Linked DNA regions of Homo sapiens. The protein of the gene in region 4 purifies or fractionates together with the protein of the main gene of each other region. This does not show direct contact. Each region holds a gene or a part of one and is shown on either strand. Other genes may lie near its edges. The genes, in order: IGF1R, DOCK4, RTF1 and ARRB1.

Evidence for each region.
Region 1: the proteins of ARRB1 (region 4) and IGF1R purify together in Homo sapiens (affinity purification with western blotting; 3 studies listed by BioGRID and IntAct, with this or other methods). This does not show direct contact.
Region 2: the proteins of ARRB1 (region 4) and DOCK4 purify together in Homo sapiens (affinity purification with mass spectrometry; 2 studies listed by BioGRID and IntAct, with this or other methods). This does not show direct contact.
Region 3: the proteins of ARRB1 (region 4) and RTF1 purify together in Homo sapiens (affinity purification with mass spectrometry; 3 studies listed by BioGRID and IntAct, with this or other methods). This does not show direct contact.

The regions. Positions count from the first base shown.
Region 1 is NC_000015.10:98,643,961-98,651,620, reverse strand, and holds the start of IGF1R (insulin-like growth factor 1 receptor isoform 1 precursor), read right to left. Parts: upstream 3,083-7,660; 5' UTR 2,040-3,082; coding exon 1,946-2,039; exon of another isoform or gene 834-1,945; intron 781-833; exon of another isoform or gene 671-780; intron 1-670. UniProt on the Homo sapiens protein: Receptor tyrosine kinase which mediates actions of insulin-like growth factor 1 (IGF1). Binds IGF1 with high affinity and IGF2 and insulin (INS) with a lower affinity. The activated IGF1R is involved in cell growth and survival control.
Region 2 is NC_000007.14:111,867,294-111,874,404, forward strand, and holds part of DOCK4 (dedicator of cytokinesis protein 4), read right to left. Parts: intron 5,272-7,111; coding exon 5,174-5,271; intron 5,060-5,173; coding exon 4,976-5,059; intron 4,798-4,975; coding exon 4,697-4,797; intron 2,363-4,696; coding exon 2,281-2,362; intron 862-2,280; coding exon 691-861; intron 1-690. UniProt on the Homo sapiens protein: Functions as a guanine nucleotide exchange factor (GEF) that promotes the exchange of GDP to GTP, converting inactive GDP-bound small GTPases into their active GTP-bound form. Involved in regulation of adherens junction between cells.
Region 3 is NC_000015.10:41,413,054-41,420,156, reverse strand, and holds the start of RTF1 (RNA polymerase-associated protein RTF1 homolog), read right to left. Parts: upstream 3,063-7,103; 5' UTR 3,042-3,062; coding exon 2,844-3,041; intron 1-2,843. UniProt on the Homo sapiens protein: Component of the PAF1 complex (PAF1C) which has multiple functions during transcription by RNA polymerase II and is implicated in regulation of development and maintenance of embryonic stem cell pluripotency.
Region 4 is NC_000011.10:75,271,623-75,278,733, forward strand, and holds part of ARRB1 (beta-arrestin-1), read right to left. Parts: coding exon 6,987-7,111; intron 5,827-6,986; coding exon 5,742-5,826; intron 5,290-5,741; coding exon 5,217-5,289; intron 2,590-5,216; coding exon 2,452-2,589; intron 1,357-2,451; coding exon 1,273-1,356; intron 103-1,272; coding exon 79-102; intron 1-78. UniProt on the Homo sapiens protein: Functions in regulating agonist-mediated G-protein coupled receptor (GPCR) signaling by mediating both receptor desensitization and resensitization processes.

The DNA.
Region 1 (7,660 bases), on a different chromosome or scaffold from region 4:
AAATGCCCGACTCCTGCGTCGGCGAAGGCCATCCCTGCTGTTTTGAATTTCAGAACATTAAAAACACAAAACTAGAGAAGCTATACAGTTCAACTGCATAACATAACAAAATGGATTATTTCTCCCGTGTCTTCTAAACCGTACTTATCTTTTAAAGATAAAAACCCTCCTTTGTCCCCCCAGCCACCACCTAAACGACTTAGTAAAGGGAGCCGGAAGGCTTTCGCCCAATCGAGTCCGCTGAAAGTTTAGAAAACAAAGAGCAGGAGAGCCCAGATCTGTGGAAGGTCCGGCCCCAGTCCGCGTCCCACTCGGCAGTAAACACGCGAACCACGATCTGCTCTCGTTCCGTCGCGGACTCATTTCTTACCAGACGTTTAAGGATTTGTTTATAGAAACAGCCTTTCTGAATTGCCCCGGTGATGGGGCCATACAACCTCCGCTGCCTCCTCCTTCCCCGCCTCACTCGTGAAGGCTCAGTCGTGATTTTTTCAAAGTTAATCGGCACCACCTGCATACCCTCGGCAACCATTACTCACCAACACGCCCTCACCGTTCCCAGTCCCAGTTCTGCGACATTTAAACTTTTAATCGTGTTCAAATTACCCTACCATCTTGAATGTACCAGTAAGCCACACTTTCAACTTTTTCAGAAGAATAAAACCCCCACCTCCTCCGGCCGTAGACACCGGGGGGAGTTCTCGCTCCCCGCATCCCCGCGCTTCCCTACTAACCCCCACCCGACACCACCAAAACAAAAGCTATCAGATTGCAAAAGACAGCGAATGTGGAGCGACACTGCTTATTAACTACGTACAAAGGAAGTGCGGGGCGGCAGAAGAGAGGGCGACACGACGCCGACCACAACAAAACCAAGGCCAGGGCTCCGCGCTCGCAAAACACAACACCCTCCCCGCGCCGCCGCAGACCCTGGCGCTGAAACCACAGCGTACGACACCTCTCGCCAGGGACGGGCGTCTAGGTGTCCCCGTGAGGCGGCGACTACACCCCGCGCTGCGAGCACGTGTGTCGGAATGCACGTCGGCTCCGACCACACACCCACCAACGCACACTCGGATGCGGCCCTAGTACCCCTCCATCCCCCGGCCCGGGAGAAACTGGGAGACCATCCCAGAGCCCTCTGAACTGGGGACCCAGTGGCGCTCCCCGGAAGAGACAAGCTGAGGAAGACTCCCGGCCTCGCACTTCCCGGGGGGCTGCCCAGAGAGCGCTTCCCCTCACCCCACCGCCCAGCCCCGGGACGCCGGGGGCAGGTAACCCAACGAGGAGCGGGCCAAAGTGACGGGCAAGGCCAGGAACCCGAGGAGCCCGAGGGGCAAAAGCACGTTGGGCGACGGGAGGCAGCGACGGGCGCTTGGAGACGTGTCCTGGGGCTTCGGGGCCTCTCCGCAGGGCACCTCCCCCCTCGAGGGCAACTCGCACCCCGCGGGCCGGGCGGCTGCCCGCTCCCCACTGCCCGGTCAGCCCCAGCAGCGGAGACGCGGTGCGGCCCAGGGTGCTGTCGCTGCTGCCTGCGCGCCGCAGGGGATCAGCGCTGTGTGCGGAGAGGCTCTTGCGCATGGAAGGGGCGAGGTGCGGGTCGCGGGGCCCGGGAACCGCGGAGCCCGCCCCGGCACCAACTTCCCTACCGAGTCCTCGCGCCTAGCCGGGAAACACGGCTGGGCTGTCAGGACGGAGAAAGAGAAAAGCCCTTCCCGCGCGGGGATGCGCGGAGCCAGGGCCCGCGGGGCTCCAGACGAACGAGCCCGGGTCCCGGGTCCGCTGCAGCCTCCCTCCCGGCAGAGCCGCCCTGCGCCCCACCCCGCCGCTCCCGAGCCCGGGGGCCCGACAGCTGCGACGGTGGCAACTCGGGTTTCGCAAACAGGGCGCAGCCCCTCGGAGGAAAAGTTCCCGCAGTGGCCGCGGGCGGCGGGCACATACTCACTTTCTCCACTCGTCGGCCAGAGCGAGAGCGCGGCGGAGAGAAACAGGAGCCCCCACAGCGAGGTCGGGGACCCTCCTCCGGAGCCAGACTTCATTCCTTTTATTTGGGATGAAATTCCCCTTTCTCAAAAAAAAAAAAAAAAAAAAAAAAGAAAAGAAAAGAAAAAAAGGAAATGAAAGGAAACAAGTCTCAAACTCAGTCTTCGCTCCCCCTCCAAAAACAAGGGCGAAGGAAACAATACTCCGAAGGCGGCGCCGCCGGGGCCCTCCGGGTGCGCGGACGGGGCGGGCGGCGCGGGGCGGCCCCTCAGCGCCGGCAGCAGCGGCCCAGGGCTCGGCGGAGTCGGGAACCCGAGGCGCGCCGGGGCGGGCTGTCGGCGTCGTCGGCCTCCATTTTCAAACCCGGAGAGGCAGGAAGGGGGGAAAACTGCAAAGAAAGGGGGCAAAGCCCAAATCTGCCTAGGCGAGGAAAAACAAGCCCGGCCCTGGCCGCGCGGGAGGCGGCCGGACGCCCGAGCTTCCGCCGCGGGAGGGCGCGACGCAGTTCGCAAGATCGCCCCGAAGTCCGGGTCACAGGCGAGGCCGGCGAGGGGCAGAAACGCGGAGTCAAAATGAATGAGCGGCTCCCCCTCCTCCTCCTCCTCCTGGCTCCGCTCGCCGCCGCCTCCTCCCTCAGCGCCGCCGCCGCCGCGGCGAGCTCCTTCCCAAATCCAGGACACACACAAAGCGGCGGGCCGGCCGCGCCGCGCTCAGCACTCCCGCCGCGCCGCCCGGCTCTGCGCCGCCGCCCGCCCCGCGCCGGCCCCCGCCCGGCCCCCGCCCGCCGCCGCCTGCTCTGCGCGGGGGCTCCGGCTCGCTGAAGGTCACAGCCGAGGCGAGGCGCGCCGTGGAGCTGCCCCCGCGCGGGAGGGGCGTGGAGGGCGCGGGGGGATCCGGGGAGCGGGGCCGAGGGTCTGCGAGCGCCGGCCGTGGGCAGGCTCGCTGGCGGCGTCCCTCTCGCTCTCCCGCCTCTCTCGAGTTCGCCTGGTGCGCTCGCTCCTCCTCGGGTTTTTTCCCTTTTTTTTTCCGCTCAGCGGAGTTAATGCTGGTAAACAAGAGCCCCAGCCTCGCCGCGCCGCCGCCGCCGCTGCCACACACTGGGGGCTCGCGCGCGCGCGCGCGCCCTGGCCCGCGCACACGCGCCCGCTCGCACACTCGAGCGGCCACCGCCGCAGCAGCGGCGCGCCGAGGGCCCGGCCCAGGCCGGCGCGCGCAAAAAACCGGAGCCCGGTTCCCCAAGACGTGCGGAGCGGAGCCCGGGCGTGGGGCGCGAGACTGCGAGGCGCCGCCCCCATCTCCCGCCCCACCGCCTCCCGCGCGCACACAGAGACACGCGCGCGTGCCCACCCGCTCCCGCCCCCACCGCACTGCGCCGGCCACCCCGCACGCGCCCTCCCCTCCCGCCCGACTCCAAAAACAATGCCCCCGCCGCCGGTCCGGTCTCGGCGGGGCAGGGGTGGGTAGCCAGGGAAAGGCTAGGCAGGGGAGGGGTGGGCAGGAGAGGGGAGGGGTGGGCGGGGAGTGCGGGGCTGGGAGAGGTTCATTGAAAACAACAACAGCGCGGCTGGAAAGCGCGTTTCCCCGGTTCTTGAAAAGCTTCATTGTTTCTTGCAGCTGTTGCAAAATAAATAAATGCGTGCATGCGGCATTTTTTTCGCTGCGTACTGGAAAGCCCGAACGTGGCGGAAGGGGCGCACCTGGGAGAAAGGGGACCCCCCCCCCAGGCTACTACGCCGGGCACTTTCACGCCAGGCTGGGGTGCCCGCGGCGTTGCGACCGTGGAGCCCGGAGTTTGGGGGCTCAGGGGGAGCGGAGGGGGAAGGGCGCGGCCCGTGTGGCTCGGCCCAGAGTGGCTCGAGGAGAGAGGACCCCGCCGCCCCTCGCGGGCCCCGCGCCCCGGAAGGGGGGCCCAGACAGGCAGCGCCGCGTGCCCCGGGCGCGTCCCCGCGGCGGCCGCCAGAGGGCGCGGCGGGCGCTGGGGAGGGCAGCCCGCGGAGAGTCGCCTCCCTCCCTCCGGGGGAGGAAATGTGGGGGCCCGGGCTGGGGGCCGACTCGGCTGGGTCGCGCTGGCGTGGCCTCCCGGACCAGCCGCCCGCCCTGAGCGCTCTCCGCGGCCTCGCGCAGCTCAGGGCTCCACCACGTGGGCGGCTGCGGGGAGCGGCCGGGGCGCGTGCACGCTGCGGGTCTCCGAAGCTCGGGGGGCGTGTCCGGGTCCCGGGGCGCCGAGGAGGGGGTGGAGGCTGGGGCCGGGAAGCCTCCCTTGGCCGCGGTCCCGACCCGGGAACACGCCGCATGCACTCGGGATCAGCGGCTACTGCGGAAACCCACCCGCACCTGTCTCGGGTCCTCCCAGGCACGTTCCTCTTGCTTCGTTTGCTACGTAAGTGACTGGAAACCAGTACCGACCCTAAGTCTCCGCGGTTGTTTTCTTGAATGTGCAGGAGGAGAGGTTTCCCCAAAGCGAGACTCCCCTAGGACTGCCATCTAATGAATAAATGCTGCGGAGACCAGGTCCTCAAAGAGGGAAACAGCCCAGCAGTGGCAGGAGAGAGGAGTTTGAAATACGTGGACTTTTACAAACAGTGATTGGACCATGTGTCGCCCTTAATGTGGTCCGGTTTCATGACTCAGGCTAATTGATGCCAGTAATAAATTTTTTTAAGATAGCTAATAAAAGAGTTGTGAATTGTCGAGATAAGAAGTGGTTGTCTCAAACAATCGGGTAGGATGGTAGAAGGGACCTGATGTAAAGGAAGGTAGTAGGTTTCTTTTACTCTCTAATTCTAAAATACTTCTGCATTAGAACGTGTATCCATCGTTCGTAAATAATTTTTTAAGAGCTGAAAACAAGTCAAAAGCTATCATAACGGAAACTTAGCCCTTTTTTTCTAAAGTTGTTTCCTAGATCATTTTCCTCCTTGGAAATTTCTAGCTCAATTCAGAGTCAGTTGTATAGAAAGAAAATAAACCTTGTTTTACCTAAGAAAGTTATTCATATGATGGGATGGTTTTGTTTAACTGAAATTCAGCTTGATTTTTAAATAAAGAGTTTCAGTTTTGGATGTTCCTAGATTTAACAGTGAAATAAATTTATTAGAATCTTAAAATGTATTATTTAAAAATTAGGCACTACACATGAAGAATTAAAGTCCAGTCTACTAATTTTTAAATATTTCTTAAGTTCTCTGCATGAGGTTGGTCTTGATTCCTGCAGATCCACTCTGGAGTTAAATGCAAAGGAATATTGATATATAATTTCATTATACTTGATTTCAGAATTTTTAATACATACTTGTAAGACAAAAATTTAGAGCTGATTTTTAAAAGGCTAGTGCTAATATAAAATCTTCAAATACTACCCAATGTATTTTTAGTATTAGTAATAAATATGCCTGTTTATTTGTCCCCAAGAACATAAAGAGGTCTATAGAATTTTTAAATGTATATAGGTTGTTGTAGGGGTTGTAGGATTTGTTTTTGTGTGTTTTTTTTTTACTAAAATGATTTTTATTTGTGAATTTTTTAAATGTTTGTGTTTTCCTGAAGTAGTAGGAAATCAATCGTATTAAGTTATTTTAAACAGTGAAGTGGGAGATGTATCATTATATAGCTTAATATTTAGGGAAAAAAAAGGAACAAAAATTTAGGTTGTCTTTACGCTCTAACTTGACCACATGGACAAAGGAGGTGATTTGTATTTCTTCAATGATTATATTTTACATACACAAGTCAAACTTATTTTTTCAACCTTGAAATAAAATCATGTAGACAAAAATTAATTGGAGTCTTTGCTTTATACCCACATTGACAATGCACCAAACTTTTTATTTTATACCATTTTACTCAGGTATCTTATAGGTTCTCCCTCTTTTGGAGCAGAAACTGATTGCTTGTTTTCATTTTTTAAAAACGCCGTTTACTTGATAACAGTTTCATCTCAAATTATTCTGCTAAATGTACCAGACTCCCCAAAAAATGTAATGTATATCATATACATCAAGTGCAAACGTGAGAAACAGCACAACAATTGACAAGTATCAAGTAATACAGTATATTGTGATGTATTCGCAGAAAGGAATGTTAGCAGCAAAAGTGAATAAACTACAGCCCCACACAACATGGGCAGATCTTTGAAACACACTGAGTAAAAATATACAAATATCAAAAACGCACACAGCGTAACACCATTTTGATAAAGCTCTTAAAAAGCAAGGAAAACTTTAAAAGTTACAGAAAATTTTTTTTGCTTTAAATAATAAAATAATATTTTTCCTTTGTTTTGCTTTTGTTTTAGCAAAAGAATTAATGAAGGATGTGAATTCCTTTGGAGAGGATGAGAAGCCCATAGGCACATGGGTTTCCATTGTAATTTGGAAATGAGTTCACTCTTGGATTGAGTGACGGATTTACAAATTTCCATTTTATAAGTATGCTTAATAACTAACACATGTTCTACATATTTTTGTATGTATAAAACATTAAAGAAGATAAATAAAAATATGGGAGAGATCCATGAAAGAGATCATTCTGGTTTTCCAATGGGAGTCGTTCAGATTTCGAGCTGTCCGTATAAATAACTCAGAAGCATTAAAGATCTACTAAAATAACACAGTTAATCAAGGTCTGATCCTTAAGATATTTCAGAAGAATGTCCACACATCTAATATCGATGCAATTTAAGACAAAAATCAAAAGACAAAAAATTTAAAAGACCTCACTTCACAGGTAATAAGCTTCATTAAGAGTGCATTATGTCAACTGTTTGACAGTTTCTTATAAGGTAAAACATACAACTAACTTACGATCCAGCAAGTCTAGCCCTAGTTATTTACCCAAAAGAAATGAAAATTCCACAAAAATACTTCTATGGGAATGTCAATAGGTGCTTTGTTCATAATAGCAAAAACTAAAACAACCCAAATGTAAATCAAAAGGAGAATGGATAAACAAATCATGATATATCCATTCAATGCAATACTGCTTAGCAGTAAAAAGGAATGGACTACTAATCCATGCAAAAACATAAATGAGTCTCCAAAGCATAATGTATAAGCCAAAAGAGTACATACTGTATTAGCTCATTTATGTAAAGCTCAAAAACAGGCAAGATTGATCTAGAGCTAGAAATCAGAATCATGGCTGCCCTGGGTGGGTAGAGAGGGAAAGTTTCAAATGACTAGGGAGAGGCATAAAGAACTTTCTTGGGTGATGGCAATGCTCTATATCTTGATGGGGTGTTGGCTATGCTAGTATATGCATTTAGCAGAAACACATCAGACTGTACACTTAAGATGGGTGCACTTCATTCTGCATAATTGTATCTGAATGTTAAATTGTTAAGATTGTATTATAATTTAGATAGTTGCAGCTGTTCTAAAAAAAATGTTAGCACAATGCTTCCCGTTTTTACTATTAGGTGAGTTAGTAGAGATGCTAAACTCCAACATCCTTGCCCACAGCTGTCTACAGATGTGTATACTTTCAGTGTGTATCTGCCTAAGGTCTTTCCTTAGGGGCATTAGCTGTGGAAGGCATCACATGGTCTCCACAGAGCACCCCAAGGGCAGGAAAAATACAAGTGATGCTGTAGCTGATTCCTATCCCCACACAGCCACAAGCAACAAGAGTCTCAGTCTTGTTGAGGATCTGTTTATACTCAACTTGAGAAGATTTTCTA
Region 2 (7,111 bases), on a different chromosome or scaffold from region 4:
TGGTAAGAGGCTGCTTCTCCTTCTGACAGGTTTTTAACCAAGTCATTAGAATTAAAAGTATACAAGAAGAATCAAGAAAGTATAGGGAAAATATTCAGAATTACCTCATGGAACATATTCAAGGCCATGCTATTTGGGAAGTAGATGGATCCTGTTCTTAAAAAAAACATGTGGGGCTACTTCCGGTAATGGAGTTTGGCGGCAGCAGCAGCTCTGCACTGGTCTTAAAAGATCAGTCCCAGGATGATTAGGGTCAAGTTCAATAAAACAAAACAACATGCAGCTTAGCTGAGTCCAATATAATGATTCTCAAGTTGACAGATTAAAATGCAGTGAGAAGCTTGGGGAAAAGAACTGCAAGAGATTGGCCCTAGTGAAATTCCTTCCCCAGGGCTGGTGGTGACAGCATGTCCAGTCGTCAGTATGTGTTCTGGTAACCGGAAATGAAGCTGATGCAAACCAATAGCCTCTCCATGCAGAGAGAGAAGGGAAAGGCAACCCACTTCTGCTCAGCTGGTACACAGAAGGTAGGGGAATTTTAAAAGTCTACTCATAAAGTTGGTTAAGCTACAAATATAAACTGGAGCAATTGACTTCTGATGGAGAAAACATTTGATTACGCTGCTGTGTAAAAATAAATAAACTGCACTTATCGTTTTCTTCTATTCAGCATAGATGAAAAGAAATTACCTGTGACTGAGATAATGCTCCAGACCCTTTGCTCTCTTGCGAAAGAAAGAAACGGACTGACATGAGAAGCTCCTGAATGCAGCAGCGGAACTCCTCTTCGTTTTGCCCACCAGTGGCAAGGGAAAACAGCCTTCGAGATTGAACTATATACTTAAAAATGTATTCTTGTGCCTTAAAAATACAATTTTTAAAAGTTAGCTTCAAAGGAGACAAAGAGTATTTATTTAGCAATGACACGGCATAAAAACCATGGTATGGCATTAAACTTTTACATTATTCATGTAGACACCAAGGCCTTGTGAGGCTTTTTTGAACAGTATTTACTTTAAGGGGGAACAGCCACTTTTCTCTGATGCCTAATGAGAGAAAAAAAATTTAAAAACACTTTAAATTTAAAAGAAATTTAAAAGAAATAGAATTTTAATAGAAAATTTAAAAACACTTTAGCCGGGCACGGTGGCTCACGCCTGTAATCCCAGCACTTTGGGAGGCCGAGGCGGGTGGATCACCTGAAGTCAGGAGCTCGAGACCAGCCTGACCAACATGGAGAAACCACATCTCTACCAAAAATACAAAACTGGCCAGGCATGGTGGCCCATGCCTGTAATCCCAGCTACTTGGGAGGCTGAGGCAGGAGAATTGCTTGAACCTGGCAGGCGGAGGTTGCAGTGAGCAGAGAATGCACCATTGCCCTCCAGCCTGGCCAACAAGAGCAAAATTCCGTCTAAAAAAAAAATTAAAAAAAAAAAAATTTTATCATTCTGGAGTATGATGAACACTAAGTGTTTTTGACCCTCAGATGTTTTTTAAATTTAGTCAACAAAAAGATAACTGTTTTTTAAAAAATAATTTTGTTTTGACAGGTAGTACTCTTGCCACTTAGCATTTTACCTTCAATCAGCCCAAATTACAAATGAATAATTCACAAAATGCTATTTTATAAAATGTATACATTGTCTACTTAAAGCTACTGACACCAAATAGGATGGTCCTCAACAACAGGAATCAGAAGACTACCAGGGCTGTTACTGGACAATTCCTTTAAGAATTTGTACTCTTTTTCAACATGTTTGCAAGTAAGGGATTAGTATCTCCACAGACAACTGAGCATATGGTGCCCAGCGATGTGGGCAGCGTTAAGCCACAAGACCCGGTAAAGCCTCAGGTTTCCTCATTATAATCCCCGCTAAGCCACCCTATTTGCTCTTAAAATTTAACATAAATGGTTCTCCGATGGTCTCTGTCAGGTTGGTGGAAGCAAGAGCCAGGAACTTCTAAGCTTAACTGCCCCATATAGACTTCTCTCATAAACCCTCCCTCTCTCCTGCTCATCTTAGACTTCACTTCAAGTACTCTCCAGCCCAGAGGAACAAGGATTCAATCCTGAACAGTTTCCAGTAGACTACCCTGGCAAAGTCCCCTTCAAATTTCATCAGCTCTCAAGCAGTCACAAACTGATTAAGATCCTTGAATTGGAATGTCAGTAATACATCATCACCCATTACTGTCTGTGTAGAGGAACCAATTAGTTTAAGCATCAGCATGCAACAGCTTTGTTAGACTCTGCTGTTATCAACAGCATGTTATCACCTTCAGCACCTCCTGGATATGCTCTTGCCGCTCTGCTTCTGTGATCCGGTCCACGTACCATTTGAGCACTTTGATGAGATCTCTAAAATACAGGGGAAAATGTGCAGAATGTAAAATTGGTCTAATTCTCAATTAAATGCCAACAAATCCAACTCTTAACTATATCATGAGGAGGTTTCTTTTCCCATCAGTTCTCACATTTTCCTGTCAATCTGCTGTATAATAATTTTACTAAATCTGCAGATCAACACTGCCACCCTTTTCAAAGCTTAAGGGAGAAACAACACTCAATCTGGACATATTCCATAGCCCTGCTGTTTCTGGTAATGCCTCCAAATGGGTGAACACAAATATTGGAGAAAAGGACTGTGCCCAACCAAGTGCCTGGCAGTGTGAGTGCCATGGTCAATACTGTAAAACTGCTCATTGGGATTTCTTTCCCAGTGACCACGTAAACAGCTGGATGCAATATCATTAGGCTGCAGGCAAAACGGGGTGGGAAGGAGGGATGGAGACAATGCCTCCCCACTGCTATGCACACCTTATGGATTTATCAAGCCAATTTTCTGACCCATGAGAAGAACCTGGCTTATGTCAATATGTGCCTTAGGAGAATTTCTAGAAAGGCCAAGGTAATTTTTTTTCCTGTTTTGAAAAAATGTAAAAACAACAGCCCACAACTCTCAAGATGACAGTCTTACACCTTGAACTTTGGTCAGTTCTTGGTTTCTCTTTTTTCTTTTTCTTTTCTTTTTTTTTTTTTTTTTTGAGACAGAGTCTTGCTTTGTCACCCAGGCTGGTGTGCAGTGGCTTGGCTCACCGCAACCTCTGCCGCCCTCCTGGGTTCAAGCAGATTCTTCTGCCTCAGCCTCCCAAGCAGCTGGGATTCAAGTATGCACCACCACGCCCAGCTAATTTTTGTATTTTTAGTAGAGGCCCGGTTTCACCATGTTGGTCAGGCTGGTCTTGAACTCCTGACCTCAAATGATCTGTCCACCTTGGCCTCCCAAAGTGCTGGGATTACAGGCATGAGCCACTGTGCCCAGCCAGTTCTTGGTTTCTAGGAAACAGTTTACCCAGCAATGTTTCTCTGGGTCAGGGGAGAATACTTGGATGTGCCAGTAGGTAGATGTTGGTGGAGTGCTATTTTTTAAGATAACATGCTAGTGAGTTTCTGATCACCCCCAGCCTAAGAGGATTCCACAAGCCTTATTTGTCTTTTTAAGATCCTGCTTTCCTGGCCAACCGGAAGTGTGAGAAATTATACTCTTGTTTTCTAGCTTCCAAAGACAATTTAACTTGGAAGCAGTAACCTCCTCACACTAGGGCCCAAATTGTTAGGCTGAGTGGGCCGATGTTTCAAAACTATTCCTGCGGTTGCATTTCACTCTCAGCAAAAAATCACACTGATGAAGTGTCAAGTCTAACAAAAATACCTTCATTCATTTCGATGTTGGAGACGTCGATCTTAACCTGTCATGGCTGGGAATATCCAAGTAAACAGGATCAAATGCTTATCTGATAACCTATTAACCTTTATATATTACATAGATGGGGGAAGGATATCAACCTGATTTCATGCTTTTTAAACTCACCTCAGGGAACAGTCAGGCATGTGCATGCCCACAGGTGCTTAAGGTATAAGGTAGAAATATGGGAGAACAGCAAGGACCATATTGGACTGGGAGACAGACGATGGGGTACACTCCAAGGCTATTTAAGCAGTTATTTGTCGAACTAAAAGAGAGAAGCTGTGGCCTCTGGCAATTATCAACTATGTTGAGAGGAGGCAGGCACTAGCCAAAGCATAATATTATTCATAACTTTTCAGCACCACCTGAGCCAGTAGAAAAGGAGGAGCAGTTAAAATAGCAGCTCCTATCAAAGAGTAGATCCCAATGACTAAATTGCCTGAGGCCAGGGACCAGGTCTTCACATCATCAGCATAAAGTACAGTGCCTGGCAAGCAGCTGGCACTCAGTAAATCCTAACATAAATGAATGGATGACTTTCAGCAGGTGTGAAGGAAAAGGTTGTTTTCCATTCATATTTCTTTCTTATGAACATTTATAATCATCAGGGAGTACAGTGATGAAGTGGGACTCTTAACAGCCGAAGTGAGATAACCAGACATTTTAGACCAAAGAATATCCAGTGAAACAGAGACAAGAAGGAAAGACTTTATATTTTAGGGCTCAGGAATAGAATTCAGGAGGTTTTTTTCCCTTTTTAATCAAAATAAGTTCTACCCATTTAAAAAGGGTGTGTTAGCAGGGAAGAGACTATCTCAAGAGACACTTCAGTAGTGCTCCATTTCTTCCTACACTCCCTTTTAAATTTTCCTATATCGCCTCTTCTGCTGAGAAAAGCTTGAAAGGAACCACTTCTAAACTAATTACAAGATACAGGGCCTTACCTGTATGCAAGTGCCCCAGCAAAATGACTCTCAATGTAAGTGTCCATTACAGGTTTAAAATGATGAAATTTGCTATCTTGCAGCAAATTTATTATGTGAACCTAAAAAAAGAAAATTGAGCTTTATAAAACTAAATGCAAATCAAGGTTTTCCTTTTTTTTTTGCTTCTTTTTAAAATGAACTCTTACATTATTAAGCACATGTTTCTGAACCAGCCTCATGAAAGTCAAGATTGAGAGACAAAACAGTTAAAATACAATTAAGGGAATTTGAACTTACCAAAGAATCAAACACTTTAGACCCATATTTTTGGGAATTTTCATCTAAAATTCCAAATAAGGTATCCAGTGTATCCTGCAGAAACTGTTAGATAAAGAAGTAGCAAATGAGTAAATAAGATACTATCTGTCTTTTTCCTCCAAATGTTCTTTATTCTATGAATCTCTGCAAGGAAAATAGTAATGAAATACTATATACCTTTACTATCTCTGAGCCATCAATTTCTTTTAATTTAGAGAGACAGCCAGTGATCTTGTCTGGGTGGGTTCTCCATTTCAAAAGATCAAGCATATCACCTTTCAAAATAGAAAAGGAAGATTAATTGCCTTAATAGAGAACAGGTCCTCACATGAAAGCGTTCTGCTAGTAAAAGTAAAATTCTTAACACATGTGGCTCCCCTCTCCTAGCCACTCAAGTTGCAGGCTCCCACAAACTATGACTAGCCCTCTCTAGGATGGCATTTATTTCACTGTATTCTGTTTCCTCTCCACTGCTCTTGACTTACAAACTCCTACCCATCCTTTAGTCCTCAGATCGGATGTTGCTTCATTTTGGAAGCCTTTCCTGAAATCTCGAGCTAACTGTCCCTTCTACATGCTTCCACATCACAGTAGCACTTACAAATCCTTACAAATCAGGCAGGTGACAAATATTTGTTGATTAATTTTTCTGCCTCCTCCTGGAAAGATGAGAGTTTCTTGAGGGCTGGGAACCTGCTTTATTCCCGTTTGGGTGCCCAGCACATAGCACTCTGCCTAGCAACCAACTCCACCCAGGAACAAAGGTCTTCTTGGCAATGTGACCCAAATCTTGCAGACTAAAAGAATGGTAACAGGCCCAGTGATTTCTTAGATCATCCAGGGAGCTCTCAACCTGAGAAGAGCAGCTCCTGGACTCCACAGGCCATCTTTCATCCCAGAGTCCAGATAAGCACAGGGCCCAGCTCTTTAACCCTTTCCTAAACAGACATGAGGGCTTTGGTCCAGCAGGTCCTTAGAGAACCTCTTCACCTGGGGAGGGAATAAATTTATCTTTCTTGGGCAGAAGTTACAAAGGCTGTGGGAGATGGTCTCCATGCATTATTAGTCTCCAACGCATGCAGGGAGAGGTGGCATCTGGAGGCCAATGAATGCAGTGAGAACTGAAGGCTCGCGTGTGCCGAGCACGCGCAGGGCAGCGGGACCTGGTAGAACTGGCCTCAGGGCTCAGTGGAGTTGCCAGACTAGACTGGCCGAGAGAGGAGCCAGGACAGAATTTCCAGGCAGGGAAGCAGGAAATTTACTTCAAATCACTTGTTTTAGCAGAAACCCAAAAGGGACTTTCTGAGAAACAGAAAGATGATGAGGGAACAAAAACTCCAAACCCCCCAAACCAAGGAAGTAGGTAAGATGAGAAAGAAAAAGAGAATATAGAGAACACCAGTGAGAAAAAGCATTAAGAATCTCAAGGAGAAAGAGAAGCAAGCTCCACCAAAGCCAGATTCAAGAGAAAAACCTCACAAAGGATTTACTATTAATAGTAAGGAATTCAGTACCAAACAGGAATGTTTATCTGCAACAAACACGGGTAAGAGGAGGAGGAGGAATTAGAATGAGAAAAATAAAGTGATTTTAAAAATACTGACTTTGAAAAAGAGATTTATGATGTTTTCATAACCAAAAACCCTGAAAATGTTGACTATTCAGATGTAATTCAGACATCCTGGGGTATGACTGAAACCTTTTAAAACTGATTGGTTATATTTGGCATATCAGATATTTCCACAGAGTGAGACTCAGGGCGACAAAGGCAAAGCTCTATTGTTCTCCCCAGTTTGCTGCTTCCCTCCTACCTACTTCCTACTTCCTGCATCTCACTTCAGGAGGCCTCCCCTCCCTGGCATCTTCTCTTTCATAATCCCTCGTGCATTTCCCCTGCCATTCACTCCTCACTTCCCACTCCACCCCCATCCCAGCTCTCACTCCTCCTTTGTGTTCTCTTTCCCTTCCTTTAAAGTGAGGCAGTTGCAGGGGCCATCAGGACCCTGCTCAATGTGAGGAGTGTGGGGAGGAAGGAGGTGGCTATGCTGGCTACCAAGTGGCAGCAGTGGAGAATGAGGACTAGGGCCCATTTAAGTAGGGCTGGAAAACAGATTA
Region 3 (7,103 bases), on a different chromosome or scaffold from region 4:
ATAGATATTTAGAATTGGATTTAAAATTGCAATTCCGGCCAAGCACGGTGGCTCATGCCTGTAATCCCAGCACTTTGGGAGGCCGAGGTGGGCATATCACTTGAGGTCAGGAGTTCGAAACCAGCCTGGCCAACATGGAGAAACCCTGTCTCCACTAAAAATACAAAAAATTAGCCAGGTGTGGTGACAGGCACCTGTAGTCCCAGCTACACGGGAGGCTGAAGCAGGAGAATCGCTTGAACCCAGTGGGCGGAGGTTGCAGTGAGTTGAGATTGTGCCACTGAACTCCAGCCCAGGCAACAGAACAAGACTCCGTCTCAAAAATAAATAAATAAATAAAGTGGCAATTCTCTGCAGTTCCCACTTTGAAAAAGCTTTTTGTGGATCAGGTGAAATATCTCTACCACGAAAAGAAGCACTCAACTTATTTTATTCATCAGAATTCTGTGGGAAACTACTAAGGACAATAATTTGCAGTTCAGTTCATTCATCACTTGAACAGATGTCTTGAGAGTGCTTTACCAAGAAATCCCCCCAAATAATCCTTTTAATGTATGTACCAATTTCCTCTAAACTATCCAGTGTACTTTATAAACACGAACTCTAGCACCATGAAAAATGACTGTGAAACATTATCATTTTGCAGTATGAAAAAAATTTAAAACTAACAGATTGAGTTGGTATAGTGGAAACAGTATAGGCTTTGTACTCATGCAGATCTGGGTTCAAATCCCAATGCTACCACTTACTAGTTGTGAGTTATTTAACTTTTTCAACCTCCATTTTCTTTATGTAAAGTAGAGGAAATAATTCCAAATTTACCATAATGTGAAAACTTGAAAATCTAAACAAAACAATTAAAGTGCCTACTCTAGGCACTATATAAATGGTAGCCAATGTTGTTATTGTCTGAAACATTCACATTTGTAGATGAAAAGACAGAAAAAAATAGATTCTACTCCTTCTAATTGCCAGTCTAAAATTATCTACCAATCAAACTTTTACAGTCGAAATTATACTTTTGATATTTTTGTAAACTTCAGGAGCCTTTCAATGAGAACATTTTCAATTCCTACCCCAAAACAAAGTTTCTATTCCTTAGATAGTCTTACACAGGCCCCATTACTTCTCCATCTCCCTACCACCATTTTCAAAGCAGTCTTCTTTCTACAGCACCTCCTCAATCCTTTTCTTCTTAAAAGTCCTCCCCTTGGCGGAGCTTGCAGTGAAGCCAAGATCGCACCACTGCACTCCAGCCTGGGCGACAGTGCGAGACTCCGTCTCAAAAAAAAATAAATAAATAAATAAAAAGTCCTCCCCTTTTATGCCTTAATACTTTCTTTTTCTTTCTTTTCTTTTTTTTTTTTTTTTTGTGATGGAGTTTCGCTCTTGTTGCCCAGGCTCACTGCAACCTCCGCCTCCCGGGTTCAAGAATTCTCCTGCCTCAGCCTCCCGAGTAGCTGGGATTACAGGCATGTGCCACCACGCCCCGCTAATTTTGTATTTTTAGTAGAGATGGGGTTTCTCCATGTTGGTCAGGCTGGTCTCGAACTCCCGACCTCAGATGAGCCTTGGCCTCCCAAAGTGCTGGGACTACAGGCGTGAGCCACCGCGCCCAGCCCCTAATACTTTCAAACTGAGACCTCTGGCTTCATATAAAAGACCCCCAAGAAGCCATTCATAGAAAAACTTTACAATTAGCAAATGCTTGCACTGCCATCAATTTTTACAAACACTTGATCTTTACAATAAACCAATTAGATACACAAGGCTGATGTTACATTTTCATTTTACATTTAAGACCAAAGATATATAGCTAGAAAATAGCATAAGCCCAGCCTAGAATTCAAATTTTCAGACTCCAAGTTCAATACTCTTTCTACTCAAAAGCTACTATCTCTTGCATATTCTTTCTTTACATCATTTGCTCATTAAACAGAAAGGAGACCATCTTTGTATCGCCTGGTATCACTAGAGCACTGCTACAAAGAGCAGATTCCTCCCTACAATGTTTTCTAGAGTATATAAACAGTTCAACCCCAAGACACTGAGGCCAAAAGTTACTTTCAGTGCTTCCTGCAGTCTTCAAGTAAGAAAGAATTCTGGGATGCTGCGTGAAAGGGCCAAGAGGAGGCCTGGGCTATGCACAGTCCCTCCATGTCGCCCTACATAGTTCTCTATTTCTTCCAGTATCTGCCCTCTTTCCTCCACCCAAGAGTGTTTTTTTGGGTCTGACACCTCAACAAGGGCCCTTCTCAAACACAAACGACCCTAGTCGCCAAATAAACTCGTGCCCACAGCTAAGTCATCCTTGGCAAGCATGGCAGAGGCTCCTAGGAACATTTACGAGTGTCCTTCCTCTGTCCACATCCCTTGTCCGAAAAACTTCCATCTTCCAGAGTCCGGATCTTCTTGGCCCTCGCCCCCAACTGCTCGACGCGCACCCTTGCACCTCCTCCAAAACCTCCCAGCCTCCCAGGTTGGCGGGCGATACTTCCTATCTCTCCCAGCCCGGATCTCCTGGACTACAGCCCGCCGCCCCGATCTGGCCCCGGAAGATCGCGGCCCCTTTCGCTACCCCCGAGCCCGAGGCCCAACGGCCCGGTCCCTGCCCCGCCTCCCCGCCCAAGGCGCCAAGTCCTCGGGGCTCCGTCTCCAGGCCCGGGCCGGTCTCCAAGGCCCCGCACACTCCAGGAAGACGGGAAAGGGGCTGTAGTGGTGCCCAGGGCACGGGGCGAGCTGGGCGCTCTGGTAGGAAGGCTCCAGGCCCGGCCGTCTCCGGCTCCCGCGGCCCCGACAGCCCTCTGGCTCCGCCGGCCCGCGCCTCCGCGGCCTGCCCTCACCTGATCCAGGTTCTCGTCGCTGCCGCTGTCCTCTGTGTCCGAGTCGATCACGACGCGGCCTTTCCGCTTCTTTACCATGGTGGTCCCCCGGCTCCCACGCCGGCCGCCGCCCGGACTCCCCTCTTGCCCGCCTGCCAGTGGGACCGCCACTGCCGCCGCCGCCGCCGCTGCTCGACCCACACAAAGGCGACCGCGCATGCGCGCTCCGCTCCGCCCCCCTGGCCCCGCCCCCTGCTCGCCGCACGCCGTTCGCAGGTCGCCGGGTGCCCCGCCCTGCCCCGCCCCCGACGCAGCGTGAGAGGCGGGGCCTTCCCCCGTCGCTGGTTCCCGGCAGAGAGTGGTGGTGGCTTTACCCGCGACTGCCCTGGAGTCCTTGGCTGTATCTCTGCTGCGGAGCCGAAGTTTGGTGGGCTCTCTTCCTATCGGGGGCTGGAGCCGCAAGGATCCAGGTTCTCTCTGAGGGGGCTCACGTGTCTACCTACTTTCAAGCTGTCCAACACTGATGGCGTGTACTTAAGGGGCCGACGGCCTGGAAGACATAAGTCGCCTGGACCACGCGGTGGACACCGGTTGGGGGCTGGAGACTGCCGACCCGGGCTGTGCGAATGACAGCTGAGCTGGGACCTGGAGAATGCATCTGAATTACCCAAAAGGAGAGTAGAGTGTTGCATGCAGAGAACAGCGTAGGCAAAATGGCCCGGCGATAATAAAGTTAGGTTCGGAGAACTGAAGTTAGTTATGGCCAGAGCAGAGATTGTGGGTGGGGATAGGCGACAGACCAGGCTGGAGAAGGACACGGCGACTGCCTCACTCAGATCCTAATAAGTAAGCTGAATTAGGGAGTTTGAACTTGAGTATTGAAAGATTTTAAACTGAAGAACCACATGATTTGATTTGTGTGTGGTTTTGTGTTTTAGTAGAGACGGGGCCTCCCTATATTGCCCAGGCTGGTCTCGAACCCCTGGGCCCAAGGGATCCTCCTGCCTTGGCCTCCCAAAGTGCTGGGATTACAGGCGTGAGCTACCGTGCCCAGCCTGATTTGTGGTGGTGTTTTTTTGTTTGTTTGTTTGTTTGTTCGTTTGTTTTGGAGACGGAGTCGCTCTTGTTGCCCGGCCTGGAGTGCAGTGGCAGCTCACTGCAACTCCGCTTCCCAGGTTCAAGCGATTCTCCTGCCTCAGCCTCCTGAGTAGCTGGGATTACAGGCTCCTGCCACCACGCCCGGCTAATTTTTTTTTTTTTTTTTTTTTTGAGACGGAGTTTCGTTCTTGTCGCCCAGGCTGGAGTGCAATGGCGCGATCTTGGCTCACTGCAACTTCTGCCGCCTGGGTTCAAGCGATTCTCCAGCCTCAACCTCCGGAATAGATGGCATTACAGACGCCCTTCACCACGCCCTGCTAATTTTTGTATTTTCAGTAGAGATGGGGTTTCAGCATGTTGGCCAGGCTGGTCTCAAACTCCTGGCCTCCGGTGATCCGCCCGCCTCAGCCTCCCAAAGTGCTGGGATTATAGGCATGAGCCACTGCACCCAGGCCTGATTTGTGTTTTTCAAAGATTACTCTGACCGCAGTATGGCGAATGGACTAAGGGCAGGGAGATCGCTTGGATTGTTGTTGTCTTCTTGGCAAGAGATGATGGTGTCCTGACCTAAGGACGAAGCTGTGGGAATGGAAAGAAGTGGATGGACTCTGGATAATTTGGAACGTAGAATCCCCAGGATTTGGGATAGGGGTAAGGGAAGGAGTGCTCCCAGATACCTATTGATGTTCAGATTCTAGCTTAGGAAGCTAGTGGCAGGTGAGCCCTTCATCAAAAAAATGAAATACAAGAGGAGAGAAGAAGGTTTTGGGAACTGGTGTGTATAGGAAATAAGTTTTTATACTTAAGTTTGAGGTCAGCTGATAAAAAGGTCAGCTCCAGAAGTTATTTCCTTTAGTGATTAGGAATATAAAGTAGGGGCCGGGCGTGGTGGCTCACACATGTAATCCCAGCACTTTGGGAAGCTGAAGAGGGCCGATCACCTGAGGGCAGGAGTTCAAGACCTGCCTGGCCAACATGGCAAAACCCCATCTCTACTAAAAATACAAAAATTAGGCCGGGCACAGTGGCTCACGCCTGTAATCCCAACTTTGGGAGGCTGAGGCAGGGGGATCACAAGGTCAGGAAATCGAGACCAGCCTGACCAACATGGTAAAACCCTGTCTCTACTAAAAATACAAAAATTAGCCGGGCATAGTGGCGTGTTCCTGTAATCCCAGCTACTTGGGAGGCTGAGGCAGGAGAATCACTTGAACCTGAAGGCGGAGGCTGCAGTGAGACGAAATCGTACCACTGCACTCCAGCCTGGCAACAGACGTGACTCTTTCTCAAAAATAATAATAATAATAATAATAATAATCTGGACCGGGTGCAGTGGCTCTTTCCTGTAACCCCAGCACTTTGGGAGGCTGAGGCAGGTGGATCACGAGGTCAGGAGCTCAAGACCAACTTGGCCAAGACAGTGAAACCCCGTTTCTACTAAAAATACAAAAATTAGTCAGACGTGGTGGTGGGCGCATGTATTCCCAGCTACTTGGGAGGCTGAGGCAGAGAATTGCTTGAACCTGGGAGGTGGAGGTTGCAGTGAGCTGAGATCGCGCCACTGCACTCCAGCCTGGGCAACAATAGCGAGCCTGTTCTCAAAAAAAAAAAAAGGAAAAAAGAAAATAATCGCACCACTGCACTTCAGCCTGGGTGACAAAGTGAGACCCTGTCTCAAAAAAATAAATAAATAAAACAACCTAAATAAAGTCCAACTACCTCTTTACCCTAGAAGAGTTTTCCTAAGATACAGCTCATAGACTTTTCTCCCCCGACATATCCTTGGAACCATGGCCAAGGTGACCCCGAATCACCAGCCCAGCTTCCGTATGTCTAGCCACCCTGAAGCCTGTGGTGCCCTTCTGGAGGACCCTCTTTAAATGTGTTAATACACAGTACTGCTAAAAAGGAAGCCATGACATGGTCAGTGGCCCTTGACTGGAATTAATAAAAGTATGTTCTTTGAGTGAAATCTGTAGATTTTGATCTTTCTGCAAGGGGTCTTCTAATGATTCACGTACTGAAGTTAGTCCGTATTGAGTCTAATCAATGTCTAAATTTAGTGAATAAACGTTGCTTTAAACTCCCTCTTGAGTCAGCTTCCCAGAGAACCCAACCAGTCAAAGTTTCCAATTAGTAAAATGAGGATAATGATAGTGTCTGTCTCTTTGGGTTCTTATAAGGTTTAAGTTTACAAAGCAGGCATGGAGGCACAGGTCTATGGTCCCAGTTACTTGGGAGGCTAAGGTAGGAGGATCGGTTGAGCCCAGGAGGTGGAATCCATCCTTGGCAACTTAGAGAAACCACGTCTCAAAAAAAATAGTAAGTTAGGCCAAGCCGAGTGTGGTGGCTCACGCCTGTAATCCCAGCACTTTGGGAGGCCGAGGCAGGCGGATTACCTGAGGTCAGGAGTTCAAGACCAGCCTGGCCGACATGGTGAAATCCCATCTCTACTAAAAATACAAAAAAAAAAAAATTAGCTGTGCATTGTGGCAGGCGCATGTAATCCCAGCTACCTGGGAGGCTGAGGCAGGAGAATCACTTGAACCCAGGAGGCGGAGTTGGAGTGAGCTGAGATCGCGCCATTGCACTCCAGCCTGGGCAACAAGAGTGAAATTCCATCTCAAAATTTAAAAAAATAATGATAATAATAAGTTAGGCCAGGCGGGGTGGCTCATGCCTGTAATCCTAGCACTTTGGGAGACCAAGGAGGGTGGATCACTTGAGGTCAGGAGTTCGAGACCAGCCTGGCTGATATGGTGAAACCCCGTCTCTACTAAAAATACAAAAATTCGCTGGGCGTGGTGGCACCCACCTGTAGTCCCAGCTACTCGGGAGGCTGAGGCAGGAGAATTGCTTGCACCTGGAAGGCGGAGGTTGCAGTGAGCTGAGATCACATCACTGCACTCCAGCCTGGGCAACAGAGCGAGACCTCATCTCAAAAAAAAAAAAAAAAAAATACTGTCCATTATCTAATCTTGGAATTTTTTTTTTTTTTTTGAAACAGAGTCTTGCACTGTCACCCAGGCTGGAGTGCAGTGGTATGATCATGGCTCACTGCAGCCTTAGACTCCTGGGCTCAAGCAATCCTCCCACCTCAGCCTGCCAAGTAGCTGGGACTAGAGGCATGTGCCAACACACCCTGCTAATTTTTTTATTTTTATTTTTTGTAGGGACAAGATC
Region 4 (7,111 bases):
GTGATTCTGGTCAGTCAAGCCAATGGGCTCCAGGCCCTCCAGGAAGGTGGGTGAACCAGGTGGAAGGGAGGAATTTACCTGGATGCAAGATCTCCCAACAGGCTGGGTGGGTCAGAGGAGGCAGGAGAAGTGGTCAGGAGAGAGTTCAGAGAGGAAGAAAACAAAAAGCACATTCATTCACCACTTCTGCTGTCCCCCGGATAGAGAAGACCCACGGGACACACTCCCACCCACCCCCCTGCACAGCCCTGACTGCTCTTTCAGGGATACACCGAAATGGCATTAGCCCTGCCCCGAGGGACTGGGATCCAGACCCAGCTCAGCAAACCCCTGAGCCCCAGGATCCTCATCTGTCAAGGCAGTGTAAAAATTAACCCCAGTGCTGCCTGTCCCAAGGGAGGCCGGACTATCTAAAGGCAGAGGGAAGGACTCCGGGGTTGCCAAGAATGTTTGAGGGACTGTGGGTCCTGAAAGGTCACCAGACACAGGATTTGGGATTTGTAATTTTGAGATGTCCTATTATATAAGGTCAGGATTACATACTGCCACCTGCCAAGAGGCATTCTTCTAATAATCAAGGAGACCCAATGTCTAATGGGATTTAGCTTTTCAATCTTTTCATAGAAATTTATGAATTAAGTTACAAAAAAGAAACACAGTAGTTTGTTTGTTTGTTTTTCTCCCTGAGCTTCCACCAAACTATGCTCCAGGGCAGGGCAGTCTGGTCCACCACTATGACCTGAGTTAGGAGAGGAGATTTCAGGCAATGTTTGGGGCACTGTCTGGGCCTCTGTTTCACCATCTGTAAAATGGGAAAGCTGACTAGCAAATCCCCAATCCAGCTCTGGGTTCTGAGCCCTTTTAGCTGTTTCCTCAGAAAATCAGCTTGGGCATGCATGGGGGTGGGTGCTATGCCCAAAGTGTGATAAGGAGATGGCACCCCTGGGGACCCCACAGCAAAGACTCTGAGGACGCCGTCCCCTGGGCATGGCCAATCCTCAGTGCGAGCCCAGACCTAGGATAGAGGAGGAGGAGAGAGAGAAAGAGATGGGTGGGGGTAAGAGAGGGGCTGAGGGCCAAGGAAGGAAGAGAGGGAAAGCGGGCGGGGGAGAAAGAGGAACAGAAGGGAGGAAAAGAAGGGACAGGAGGTTCCTCCTCCAAGGTGGATGCAGCTAAAAGGGCTGCAAACAGGCAGAATGGGGCAGGGGCCTGTGGGCACCTGGGACGCTCCCCTCTGCACTCCGGGGTCTTGGGCTTGGCTGGAGCACTCACCCGCCCCGAGACACCACCAGCTTCACTTTCACTTTGTAGGAAACAATGATCCCCAGGATCTCACGGTTGGCACCTTCCCTCAACCTGCAAAGTGACACAGGGGAGCCAGTTCAGGGGCCTTGCCAGGTGGGCGAGACACCTCAGGGGTGGGTATGCTGGGGGGCAGTGGCCGTCCATCCCCCATCTGGCTAGCCACTCAGCTACCATGTCCAATAGAGCCCAGTGGAGATGAGGAAGGCGAGCAGTGCCCTTAGGTAGCAGGGACCCAGAGCCCCGGTTCCAAGTCTGACTGTGAGACTCGCTCACTGTGTGGCCCTGCTGAGCCCCTCTCCCTGCCCAGGCCAGCGTCCCCGCCATGAGGGCCAGGCTCCTCCTCCCCTCAGATGGATTCTGCTTCTCTCAGCAACCCATGGGCAGAAAGGGCCACACGGGGAGTTCACAGAGGGCGAGGCAGCTGGGGTGGGGTGGGGTGGGGGCCATCAGAGAAGGACTTCTCCGCAGAGGTGGTGCTTCAGCTGGGTCTTGAAGATGGGTAGGGTGTGAGCCAGGGTGGAGACAGGGCAAAAAGCTTCAGGTAAGTGGGAGGCTGTGCAGGGGCTGCTGAAGAGAGCTGAGTCTGTGCTGGGAGTGGCGGCTGCTCTAGACGTAGGCCAAAGCCCCACTGAAGGACCACACTGGCAAGAGGGCAAGATGGCATCCCCATAGCCAGGGCTCTGCTGGAGCAGAGTAGCCTAGAGGCGTCCACGATGACTGTGCAGCAGGAGTGACCAGATGCCCTGGGACCCCTGACTTGGAGGGGCACCCCATGTTGGGTCTAACCCAGCTCACCACCCTGGTCTCTCCTCAGGGACACCCCATCTGACTGAAGGCATTACGTCAGAAGCTGCCACCTCTTGCAGGAAGCCTTCCCAGGTTGCCCTCCCCCAGGCATGGTAGCAGAGCCCAGCACTGCCTGAGTGAGCTGGCCTAGTGGTCCATCTTATTCTCTCAGTCACCCCTGGGTAGGGTTGGGAGTAAGGAGGCAGCTTCCCTGACAAGTCAAGCACCTGAGGACAGGCCCTGACAAGGCTATGGAGAGGGTAGCCTGAGCCTTGTCTTTGAACTGGGGGGACCAAGGAGGGTGTGGCCCCATCAGGCAAGATGCACTAGGAGCCCAGGGCTAGGAGGGCAGGTCCTCACAGGGTGCTAGAGGCCAAGTTCGTGTCTTCGTGCTTGAGCTTCCCGTCCAAGGCGAGGCCCCGCTTCTCTCGGTTATTGGCTAGGAAGGGGGTCAGTGTGTAGACCTTGCAGAACGTCGAGCTGGGTGCCACAGTGTCACTGGGAAGAAAGGAAGCAGCTGTGGAGATGGCCCTCCCCAGAGCCAACCCCAGCCCTGATCTCCAGCCCAGCAGAATATCTAGTCTGAGCCTGCTCCAAGTCTCCCTCTCCCAACCTCTGTCCCCCAGACACACGGACCACTTGGGCCAGCCCAGCTCGGGCAAGGAGACCACTGCCACTCAAAAGAGGCACATCTACATTCTACGCACAAACAGGACTGAATCTCGGATATTCTAAAAGATTATCCTAGTCAAGCAGCACAGTGCTAAAAAGCACATTTATTTAAAGAATTACAGCCAGCCGGGTGCAGTGGCTCACGCCTGTAATCCCAGCATTTTGGGAGGCCGAGGCGGGTAGATCACGAGGTCAGGAGTTGGAGACCATCCTGGCTAACAAGGTGAAACCCCGTCTCTACTAAAAATACAAAAAAATTAGCCGGGCATGGTGGTGGACGCCTGTAGTTCCAGCTACTCAGGAGGCTGAGCCAGGAGAATGGCATGAACCTGGGAGGTGGAGCTTACAGTGAGCCGAGATTGCTCCACTGCACTCCAGCCTGGGTGACAGAGCAAGACTCCATCTCAAAAAAAAAAAAAAAAAAAGTACAGCCACAGCAGGCACAGTTGCTCATGCCTGTAATCCCAGCAACTTGAGAGGCTGACAGGAGGATTGCTTGAGGCTAGGAGTTTGAGACCAGCCTGGGCAACATAGCAAGACCCCATCGCTACAAAAAATTTTAAACATTAGCCTGATATGGTGGTGCACACCTGTAGTCCTAGCTACTTGGGAGGCTGAGGCAGGAGGATCACTTGAGCCCAGGAGTTCGAGGCTGGCTGTAGTGAGCCATGATCATACCACTGCACTCCAGCCTGGGCAACAGAGTGAAACTCTGTCTCTAAACAAATTTAATTTAAATTTATTTTATTTTATTTTATTTTATTTTATTTTATTTTTTTGAGACAGAGTCTTGCTCTGTCGCCCAGGCTAGAGTACAGTAGTGCGATCCTGGCTCACTGGAACCTCCACCTCCCAGGTTGAAGCAGTTCTCCTACCTCAGCCTCCCAAGTAGCTGGGATCACAGGGGCGCGCCACCATGCCCGACTAATTTTTGTATTTTTAGTAGAGATGAGGTTTTGCCATGTTGGCCAGGATGGTCTCAAACTCCTGACCTCAAGTGATCTGCCTGCCTCAGCCTCCCCAAGTGCTGGGATTATAGGCGTGAGCACCAGCCCTGTCTCTAAACACATTTTAAAAAGAAAAAATTATAGCTACACATAAACCATAAATGAAGCTATTTGGGCACCCATATACCCACCATCTAGGCTCAACAATTAAAACTTTACTTGCTTGATCACATCCATCATATATAGGGTGTTTTGATTGTCCAATTTTTACTTGCTTTTGCTCTATCCCCCATCCTTTCCAATGAGAGAGCTGTCATGCAGCAGATAGTGAACAAGCCTTGGAGTCGGACGACCGTGTTCCAGCCCCAGCTTTGCTGCTTGCTAACTTGCAAGTCACATCTCTCTGAGCCACTTCCTCCTCTACATACTGGGGCAGCAGCAACCCCAGCCCCACAGCGCTTCCTGAGAAGTAAACAAGTCTGTGAGTGCAAATGCCTCCCCAGCCATCCCTGCTGGTATTCGTTATGCAGACGCTGGCACCATCTGCAGTGGTTGGGATTTTCTACTCTTTAGGGATTATATGTTACTCTGGTTCTAGATCACTTCACTTTACCATCAGGAATCTATGCCTCATAGCTCTGATTTTTTTGAAAAAATCAACAGTGGATATGAAAAATATCCAGTAACCAGAGAAAGCTTGATCTAATCATAGCATGTTCACCTATAGGACATTAAAAACTATTTCAAAGGCCATGTAGTAACATTTTAAAAATATTTTCAGTTGCAAGAAATACTGATTGGAATTATACATAAACAAATACACATATACATGTAAAATTATATCAGGTATAATTGCCCCAAGAAATTACTTGCAGGGCCAGGAAAAAAAAATGTGTATGTCTTTGAATGGGAGCATTTACTTCCTTTAGGTAAGTAAAGATGTTTCACTTCAGATCTCTCCACTTGCCTTAGCTGCCAACAAGCCTGGGACAAAGTTCGATCCATGCTCAACCATAGCAGTTCTCCTCAAACCTAGATGATTTTTTTGTGTGTAATTATTCTCTGCACTCCCACACACAACCCCTTTTTCCCAATGAGTTGGATTACCCCTTTATCAGACAAGAGCTGTGTACCTAGTGCCTTACCCACTTTGCCCTGGCTACCAGGAAGCCAAGAACAAAGTATTTCCCTTCAACCTAGGTTTCTTGTACAACGTAATTATTTCTTCTCACAACCCCAATCCCCTTACATTCATTAGCTATTGTTTTGTCACTCTAGTTTTAGTGGGTCTCTTCCTTGACTGTAGCATGCATTTTCTTGAAGCTAAATCAGGTGGATGGTTTCTAAAAGGCTCTTCGGGATCATCTACTCTGAGTGGCAAGGAAGTCTGAGGCCCAGCCCTCTGCCAGGTGGAGAAGAGCCACCTGGACCTGTAACAGGACACCTAGAGCTTCTCTTTTTCCCACCCAATCCCATACGCCCAAGGCCAGACTTGTGCCCACTTACTCAGCCTCTTCCATGGCAACAGGGCACTTGTACTGAGCTGTGTTGAAAAGGCAGATGTCTGCATACTGGCGCACTAGGGAGGGAGAGGAATCAAGGTGGAGTGAGTCGGGAATGTAGCTCCCATGGAGTCTCACAGGCGTCCCCGGGTTGGGGATATTCAGCCCCAGGCAATGGCCAGAGGCCACCAGTGGGGACTTCTGCATAAGACCACCCCTGTCTTACATCCAAAGGGTAGCCCCAAACACACCCATTTCCTTCCATAACCAAAGCCTTCCCCTCAAGGACAGCTTTGTCCAGAACCCAAGAAACTGAAGAGGTGGCTTAAAGAGCAAACTCATTACCTAGCCAATAAGCAGCCTGCCTTACCCAACTCAAAAGCTTTGCCCTGTGGCTCAGAGCAGGCCCTGGGCTTCAGTGGCTATTTTTTATACAAGGCTGTTAACAAGGGGAGATACTTCAGCCACCCCCAGCCCTTGGGAAGATTGCCTCTCGCTGTCCCCTAAGCTGACCCTCTGTCTGGGATACCTGAGATCTTGATCTTCTTCACCGTCTTGTTGGTGTTGTTGGTGACGTGGACGTTGACGCTGATGGGTTCTCCATGGTAATAGATCTGGGGGGCATAAGAAGGGACGGGGTTGGCTGGGAGGACAGCAAGGTTCTAGGGAAAGGGGAGGGAGAAAAGCCCCCACGCGATCTTCTGGGGTTCCCCAGACCTTGCGCAGACCTTCAGAAGGGTCTGCTGCTCCCATCTGAAGTCCATCACATCCCTCAGGTTCATGCCCCCTCTGCCACTCCTTTAGGCCCAAGAGGCTTCTCCGAATCCCCCAAGGCATTGTGACATTTGCCCCAAGTTCATCAGCCACTTCCCACTGCTGCTAAGGTGGCATGAAAGCCACCAAGCACATTAGCCTTCAGTTCCCTGGTGGGACCCTTGAAAGATAACGGAATTGGAAGGTGATAGTCCTGGGCTCCAGCCCTGGCTTGGCCAGCAGTAATTGTGACAACAATAACAACAATAACATTGACGATGATGAAAGCAGTGTGACCGTGGGTAGGTTATCTAAGCCTCAGGGTCTCCCTCTGTGCAACGAAGGGGTTGGACTAGGTGATGTCTGAAGTCCCTGCCAGCTCTAAATTCTGTCCACAGAAGGATCTGGAAGAAGCAGGGAAAGGTGAGGATGGGCTCACCAGCTCACTGAGGGAGCCAGCTCTGAATCCCTACAAAAAGACCTCAACTTGCATCTTGCCCCAAGGCACTTCCCTTCAGCCATGCCCCGAGAGAGAGGGGGTGCCCACACCTTGAGGAGGGGCCAGCCTAAGCTCACAGCAGTCAGCTGGGTTTGATTCAGAGTTTGAGGGGAGGCCCTTCCTTCTGCAGGGCTTGTCGCCCTGACGCTCAGTGTTTGGCAGGAAGGTCACGGCCCCCCACCGTGCCCCCTCTGCAATGCTGGTTGACCTTCAGCACTCGGCCTGAGGCAGGCAGCTGGTGGAGGTGTGGGGGAGATGTCCAGGACCTTCAGGAAGGTCTGCTCCTCACTTCGGAAGTCCATCACATCTCTCAAGTTCATGCCCCCTTTGCCACTCCTTTAGGCCCAAGAGGCTTCTCCAAATCCCCCATGAGAGGTCTCAGATTCCCTGACCCCTGTGGTCCTTGGGCTGGGGATAGAAGCTCCTACCTGAGGCATCCTTGCAGGCCAGGAGAGAGCTGGGATCTGAGGCCCAGGCCCTGGTGGAGCAGCCCCCACCCCCTGCCAAGTCCGAGCCTCCTACCTCCTTATCCAGAGAGGCTTCTAGGTGCAAGGGCTTGTCCGACATGAGGAACTGCCTGGTGGTCTCGGCTGTGGGCTGGGGGCCAGGCCTCTCTGGGGCATACTGAACCTTCCGGATGACCAGAC